2 linked regions of the Homo sapiens genome follow. The protein of the gene in region 2 interacts with the protein of the main gene of each other region in a biochemical or structural test. Each region holds a gene or a part of one and is shown on either strand. Other genes may lie near its edges. The genes, in order: STAT1 and DOT1L.

The links.
Region 1: the proteins of DOT1L (region 2) and STAT1 form a complex in vitro, tested with the Homo sapiens proteins (one study listed by BioGRID).

The regions. Positions count from the first base shown.
Region 1 is NC_000002.12:191,007,664-191,011,474, forward strand, and holds part of STAT1 (signal transducer and activator of transcription 1-alpha/beta), read right to left. Parts: intron 2,787-3,811; exon of another isoform or gene 2,709-2,786; coding exon of another isoform or gene 2,704-2,708; intron 2,342-2,703; coding exon of another isoform or gene 2,341-2,341; coding exon 2,213-2,340; intron 1,481-2,212; coding exon of another isoform or gene 1,445-1,480; coding exon 1,300-1,444; intron 1-1,299. UniProt on the Homo sapiens protein: Signal transducer and transcription activator that mediates cellular responses to interferons (IFNs), cytokine KITLG/SCF and other cytokines and other growth factors.
Region 2 is NC_000019.10:2,226,406-2,230,216, reverse strand, and holds part of DOT1L (histone-lysine N-methyltransferase, H3 lysine-79 specific), read right to left. Parts: coding exon 3,090-3,811; intron 2,481-3,089; coding exon of another isoform or gene 1,870-2,480; exon of another isoform or gene 433-1,869; coding exon 425-432; 3' UTR 55-424; coding exon of another isoform or gene 1-54. Other genes in the region: PLEKHJ1 (pleckstrin homology domain-containing family J member 1), read left to right, coding at 1-54. UniProt on the Homo sapiens protein: Histone methyltransferase. Methylates 'Lys-79' of histone H3. Nucleosomes are preferred as substrate compared to free histones. Binds to DNA.

The sequences.
Region 1 (3,811 bases), on a different chromosome or scaffold from region 2:
AGATTTGAGTGGTTAGAACAAAAATAAATTAAAATGCAGAATGTTTACTTTATTGTGTATTGTAAGTTGATATGAATTTGTTTATATTCTCCGGGAAACCTCATCTCTCATCTATTAAATTCTATATAAGCTATGTTTGTTAAAATCAAAATATTTCTTTCACGAATTATGACAAAAATTGCTTTAACTTTCTAAGTGCAGGTACCTAACGTACTTTTTGATTTAAAAACAAGTATTTTCACATATGGTTCACATAATATTTTTACTTTAATATCTTTCCATATTTCTTAAGGCCAATTATCTTTGGTTAGGATCCCGAGACAATGCAAATGATATAAAAACTATACATGACATTCCTCAATGAATGCATCTGTTGGTCTAAGCTTTGAACTAGACCAAAGATATTCATCTAGGGTTTTCTGTTGCCATTGTCAAAGCTAGTTTGCAAAACACTACCAATAGCAATAATGGCTCTTTATACAGGTACATTCATGCAAGGTCTGTATGAGAACAAATTTCTGTAAAGTTAATTTGATTTCCCCACTCGTAAATAAAATCATAAATACATTCACAAAGGAAAAAAAACAACTTCCAATTACCTAAGCTGAAAAGTTCAGTTGTATTGTATGAAAGAAGAAAATGATAGCTTTCACCTCCATTAAAACAGAAAAGTTCTGTTATTACACAACATAAATATGATAGCCACCCCAAGGGCATGCTGGGAGTACATCTGAAGAACCCCTAAAACTCTATAGCATGTTCTCTCATGTCTGGATCTTTCTTTGACTTTCTCTTCCAGGAGAGGCCAACTCCACCAGAAGCAAGGCAAGGTGGAGTCTAGTTCCTGAAGTCACCTGACTTCCTTAGGTGAAAGTCAAACCTTTCCTGTTTTATTCCTCATTTGCATAGCAAGGACCTGAACCTAACCACTAATGTTCCCTGGAGCTTTAATGTATTACTATAGATCATTGCTCTTAAAATGTAGCCCCTTTTCTTTGGTTTAAATATTGACAATTTTTAGTAAAACAAAATTATAGCATCACATTTTTCTCAGGATTACTGATACCTAAGAGGTGATACATTTAACCCTAAAAATTCCTTCTGTGTTTATAAAATAAATTGGTATCTTATTTTACTTATGCTATATTTACTGATGCTGTAGAAAACATAAATGGAGTTAGTCTCTATTACTTCTCTAAATACCAATAAGTGTGTGCTCAATTGTATTTGCTGAATGAAGAAAACTGCCTTCCATAAACATGAGAACATTTCAACTAAAATACAAAAACCAGGTCATACCTGAAGATTACGCTTGCTTTTCCTTATGTTATGCTGTAGCAAGAAGTTATTCTCCAAAGAAAAGCGACTATATTGATCATCCAGCTGTGACAGGAGGTCATGAAAACGGATGGTGGCAAATGAAACATCATTGGCAGCGTGCTCCCTAGGAGATTTAACATTTACACATTTCATTCTAGAACTAAATGTCTATGTAAAACAGACAAAACAAATGTTGGTTTCCTTATTGAAATTATTAAAAATAATTTAAGTATTTTCTTAGGTTTATTTTCTTCTTTTGAAACTGACATTGCTTTTAGCAGCAGTTTATGTGGTATTTCTCTTATGTGCAATTAGCACAAAAAATTCTAAACTCTAAGAGATTGTGCATGACAGTGTTCATGGTGACTATCTCTGAAGGGGGAAAAGTCAACAGGGGACCCTTCACTTTCTATGTCAAATACTTTCAGGACGTTTTTAAATTAGCAAATAATAAATTTTAAAGTAGAACACCTATCAGTTAAAAAAAATCCCCTTAATTTTACTACCTTCTTCATATTTCTAATCAATGTTTAACCATTAATTTGGCTTTATTTCTTTTAAATTACTTCTTTCTATAGTCTGGATCCTAAGTTGGAAAATAATCGGTGTCAGTATTCCGTAACTTGTCCAAAGCATTTAGGAATATCTATCATAAATTAAATTTGGCAAAACTGTATAAAAGTGCTTAATGACTAATATACTTAACTTTGTTGAGACACTTTTTGGCTCAACTTTGTTGAGTCATTTTTTAAATCAACAAACTTTTCTACAACAAATAATTCCAGTGGCCATTGATGGAATTCATCTTCCAGTAAACATGGCCCCAAGTCACTTAATCAACCAGTACTTTTAAGGTGTAAACTTCTTCTTCTGTCTAGTGAATTTTCCTTACCAGTCTTGCTTTTCTAACCACTGTGCCAGGTACTGTCTGATTTCCATGGGAAAACTGTCATCATAAAGCTGGTGAACCTGCTCCAGGAATTTTGAGTCAAGCTGCTGAAGTTCGTACCACTGAGACATCCTATAGGGAAAAAGAATATACATTCTTTCTATGTATATGGAAACCATAGCTCCAAAGAAAGCCTTCCTAGCATCAGGTTGTACTCTTAAATATCTTGCTTAATCCAAAACATAGTTTGTCCCAGGAATATTTTATTTAAATGGCATTTATAGTCTAAAGCCTGTTTTTAATTGAGTTTGGGGATGAACTTTTTTTCTCCTCCACGAAACACATCTTCATGTCTTTGCTTATTGTCAACATATCAGGGCAGCCTTCTCTGGCCTCTTTTATTTAAACTGCAACCACCTCCCACCCTGGAAACATGCTCTCTCTTTTCCCTGGTTTATTTTTCTTCATAGTACTTACACCACCATCTGACCTACCACATATTTTATTTTCATTATTGTCTGTTTTCACCACTTGAAGGGATGGATGTTGGTGGAGGATTCTGTGCACTGGTGTATCCCTAGAACAATGTCAACCACATAGTAGGTATCCAATAAATATGCCTTTAAAATGAGTTTGTGATTTTATCAAATAAATACATGAAAAACATTATTTTAATTAGACTTGCTTTAAGACAAATCACAAGACTCTCCCAAAATTGCTCTCCTACAAATCACAGTACATTTGTAATTTAACTCAAATATTTTCAAACTTCTGTTTTATATTTATGATTCATATGGTAAAATTCATTATTTTTCTTATACACATTTAAAAAGATATATTTTCTTCTTTGCCTACTACAAACAATAAATCTGGCATAAAGAAGTAATGATTTTTAAAGATTAAAACATCATTAAATGTAATTTAAAAGGATAAAGTAACACTTAGCTTTTTGGATAACTGTTAAGTCCATTTTTACATAGTGATCCTAAAGATTCAAAATCACAACAAAAACTTGATATAAGCAAGTCCTAAAATTCATTAGGAAAACGGAGAGTCTCCCATGACCATCATGTAACTTAGGATTTATATCAGCACACAGGTGGCAATATGCAGAGCAGACACAAGTGAATCTTGTCCTGCCAGACCTCTGGGGAAGGAGTCTGGATTTTCAAGTAGGGCATGGAAGAGTGTGTATGCATACTTGTAGCCGAGCACATGTATGCAGGCATGAGGTCACGCCTACTCCACAAATGTCCTTCCAAAGGAGTGTGAGGAAATGTCTGGCCTATAAAGCTAGTTATCCTCATATATACCAGTAGAAACGGACCCAAGCCCAGCCCCTTGGCACTCCTGCTGAAGCAATTTGATTTTTCAGTTCAGTTTTATTTTACCTGAGTGGAAAAATCTGTGGCTGTCTCCCTCCCTGCTTGGTAACTAATAAGGATCTACCTAAAGCAGATATGCTGGACCGTCAGGCAATGGGAGCTGCAACGCCTCTTATTAGCCAAGCGAACCCAGGTAACTTACTCCCCTATCAACAAGGTGTGTGTGTGTGTGTTTAGTAGACAGGAACTTGCTCTGTCATCCAGGTTGGAGCGCAGT
Region 2 (3,811 bases):
CGTCTAGTCAGCACCAAGCGGGTGGAGGCAGGCGCGGGCCTGGGGACGAGATAGCACCGGGGCAGGCTGTGGCGAATCCGCTGGCGGGCCCGCCCTGCAGACACGTGTCTTTATATAGAGCTCTCATATATAGATATTTATATTTCTCAATAAGTTGCCTTTTACCACTTAGATGGAATAAAATAAGTCAGAATTGTTTATACTTTTTAAAAAATGATAAATACTTTATCTAAAACTATCGACAGTACAAACTGGACCAGTCCCAGCCTCCTGCGGCGCGTGCCGCCGATTCACAGTGGAGCTCCCGTCCGTCCTTGCCTCTGCCGTCCAGGGGTGGGAGCCCGGCAGGCCGGCGGGCACCATGCCGCGGGCGCGAGTTGGTCCACACCGTCCTTGCATAGGTCTCGCGGTTGAGGTAGAAATCCTAGTTACCTGCAGAAGGGCACAGCGGGAAGAGCGGCCTGAGGTTACCATCGCGCCTGGGGGAGCCCAACACTCACCCAGGCTGGGGACCGAGGCCTCCCACGAGCACACACGCCACCTGGGGCCAGCACCATGACAGGCATAGTGCCAGCTCCTCTAACCACAACAGACGACGGGCGTGCCCCGTGACAGACCAGGGAGCCTGACACCTGGACACGCCGGCCAAGCTCCAGCCTTCCTCCAAAGGAGACACACAGCCGAGTCCAGCTAAAGCCACCCTACCTGCAGCTCATCTCCTAAGAGACCCAGCATAGCTTGTCCAGCCCGCAGGTGCCCGCATTGACCCGCCAGGCTGACCAGCCCTGGCCACAGCCTCCGCCTTGGCTCCTGGCTCCCAGTCCTCCTCTCCTTGCCCGGTGGGCTTTGGACTCGCCCAGGAAGGCCTGTGTCCCAGGGGCCCCTGAGGCAGAAGGCCAGGGGCAAGCAGAGGGCACCTTTGCACTACGCCGCCAGGCACGCCATGTCCCTGGAGGGCACGGGTGGCCAACTGCCCTCAGGGGTCAGCGGCCACAGTCTCCACAGCCTCTTGGGGGAGGAGTGAACAGGACATTCCCTGAAGGCCTCACATCATCAAAATCACTCCTGCTTCCAACTTCCTTCTGGTCTCAAAGGTGGGCACCGTCTACACTAACCTGCCCAGCTTGGTGCTGACATCTGAGCAGCTGAAAGCCCCTCGGCTGTGGGCCATGACCACAGGGCAGTGTGGCCATCAGCCGTGTCCAGCAAGGGGGCCTCAACACGCAGGGCACAGAGCTTGCCTCTCGACCCCGCCGGGAACCCATCAGCCCCCAGGCAGGCAGGGCACTTGGGGCTTCACTGGCTCCCTATGAGGGCATCCGAGGCTACTGGCCAGACAGCCCCGACCAGAGGCATCCAGCCAGCCACCCTGGCTCTCCAGGACCTCTGCAGCCGGCACCGTGCCTGCTACATGCTGGGCGCCTGGGGAACAGCACCAAGCCACGCCACCCGTCATGAGTGACCTGGGCCTGGTGCGGATGGAGCCCTGGAGACTGCTCTAGGAGCTAGAGCTCCCAGCCCCCTGGCCTGGCACCCCGTGAGCCTCGCCCACAGGGGCTGGCACAGCTGCCCCCAGGGCTGGCCTCAGTCCTGCGGCGTCACCGCAGGAACCCAGCTGCGGGCAGCTGGAACCCAACACACTCAGGCCACTCCATGGCTGGTGCCCGTCCTGTAGTCCCTCCTCTCGCGACCATCTCCCTGGTCTCCCTGGCTCTCTCCCTCTTCCCTCCTCAGGACCCCCGGAACTTCTGCCGAGCCCTGTGGCCGTCTTCTCTGCCAAAGGAAGGACAGTTCAGTGTCTGGAGTGAGCCACCGCGCAGGGCTCTGGCCTTACCTTACACAATACGCACTGCTAGCTAAGCAAGGTCTTTATCGCGGCTTAACCCCCGAAAGGTGCGCGGCATAGGGAGGCGGCATGCCGAGGGACACCCACACCGCGGACGGCCCCGTGGCGCTGGCCTGTGGGATCCCGGGCGCGGCCTGGGCCAGGGCCAGCCGGGGCAGGGGCTGGTGGTGCACCGTGAAGGAGGGGCGGGCGCCCTTGTGCGGGAGGGAGGTGAGCTTGATAGACAAAGAGGCGTTAGCAGGCGGCAGAGAGGCAGCAGAGGTGGGGGGCAAGAAAGCTTGGTTAGGCGGGAGGGACGCGAGGCTCTGCAGAAGCGCGGGCTCAGGGTTAGAGGCCAGCAGCGTTGGGGGAGGAGGCAAGGCGGCGTTAGGTGGAGGGGGGGCGTGGAGGACGGGCGGCCCCGCGGGGGACCGGCCCAGGTGCGCAGGCGGGGGCAGCGGGGGAGGCGGAGGCGGAGGCGGAGGGGGCGGCCGGGTCTCAACCGAGGCCGGGGCCTGAAAGGAAGAGGCCGAGGCGCTGGCCGCCGCCTGCAGCGGGCTCGGGCCCAGTGTGGCGCTGCCACATGCAGCCCCGCGGCCGACACGGGCTCCAAACGGATGAGCAGAGGCGGAGGGCACCGCGTGGTTAAAGACACCTGCAAATAGGAGAGAAAAACGCAGCTTCAACAAGCGGCAGCATCCAGGCAAGCGCAGAGCAGCAGCCGCAGGCTCACAAAAAGGGAAGCGAAACGGCGCCGCCAGGCGTGTGCGGGCACCAAGCACAAGCAGCGGCTCGGCCAGGCTCGTGGTGGCCCGCCCTCCGCCCTCCGGCCCCCCGCCCCGCAGCAGCCCCAGGGCCAGGCCGCTCCCCCCGGCGGCTCCTCTCCGCCCTGTCTGGGCAGGCACTGCGGGGACTCGCTCTTACCCAACACCAGCTCCCAGAGCCTTGCCAGAGCCCGGGCGGCCACACCTAGCAGGTGACCTCCACGGGAGAAAGTAATGCTCTGGTGGCCCTGCGCACGGTGGCCTTCTGAAAACAAGAGGGACGCGGTTACAACCAGAGAACCCAAGACACACGGACTCAGCGTGAGCCCTCTCCCCACAGGACTGGAGTTCGCCACCGTGCACGGATGGCGGGGGCCGGCCGGCACCAGGGGACCTGCAGCTCAGCTCCTGCTGCAAGAGAGTGCGGAAGGGAACCTGCAAAGGAAGGGGCCTCCGGCGGGGGCCGGGGCGGGGGGCGGACGGACGGCCGCCCTGCCTACCTCCAACTGTGCCGCCTGCCACCCCGGAAAAGCTGCCCATGGCGTGCGAGTTGGTCAGTCTGGTGGCAGCGGACGACACGTGCACCAGGCCTGCGGCGGCCGGCACAGAGCTGAACAGCGACTGCAGCACGGAGGAGCCGGCCACGGAGCCGAGGTTGGCCTGCAGGGACATGGGGCCGAGCGCGAACTGCGGTCCCGGCGGGAAGGGGCCCAGGAAGGACCGGTGCGTCTGGGCGGAGGACGCCGCGCCGCCTGCGGAGGACGCCGCCGGGGCCAGGCCGGGGCCGCTGAGGAGGCTTCCGGGAGGCACGGCCGCCGCAGAGATGAAGAGGTTGTGGCCATTCTTGAGGTCGACCTCGCGGTCCCGGGCCTTGGCGGCCTTGCCGCTCAGCAGTGGGGTCTTGTCCGTGGGCCCGCACAGCGGTAGGCCGCCCTCCCCTGCCTCCTTGCCGCGGCTGCCCTCGCCCTTCAGCCCAGCCAGGCCGTCCAGCTGCCTCTTGCTCAGGAAAGGGTTGGCGTCCGAGCCCTCCTTGCCGCGCTGCGAGGGGAAGCTCAGCGGGGAGCTCAGGCCGGCCGCCTCGGGGCCCTTGTGGGGAAGAGAAGCACCATCACTGAAGCTGTGTAAACTCAGGTCCGCGGCCAGGCCCCCGCCGAAGGTGCAGCCGTTGGCAGGGTTGGTGCCCGGGCTGAGTCCGTCAGCCCCCGACAGGGAGCCGGGAAAG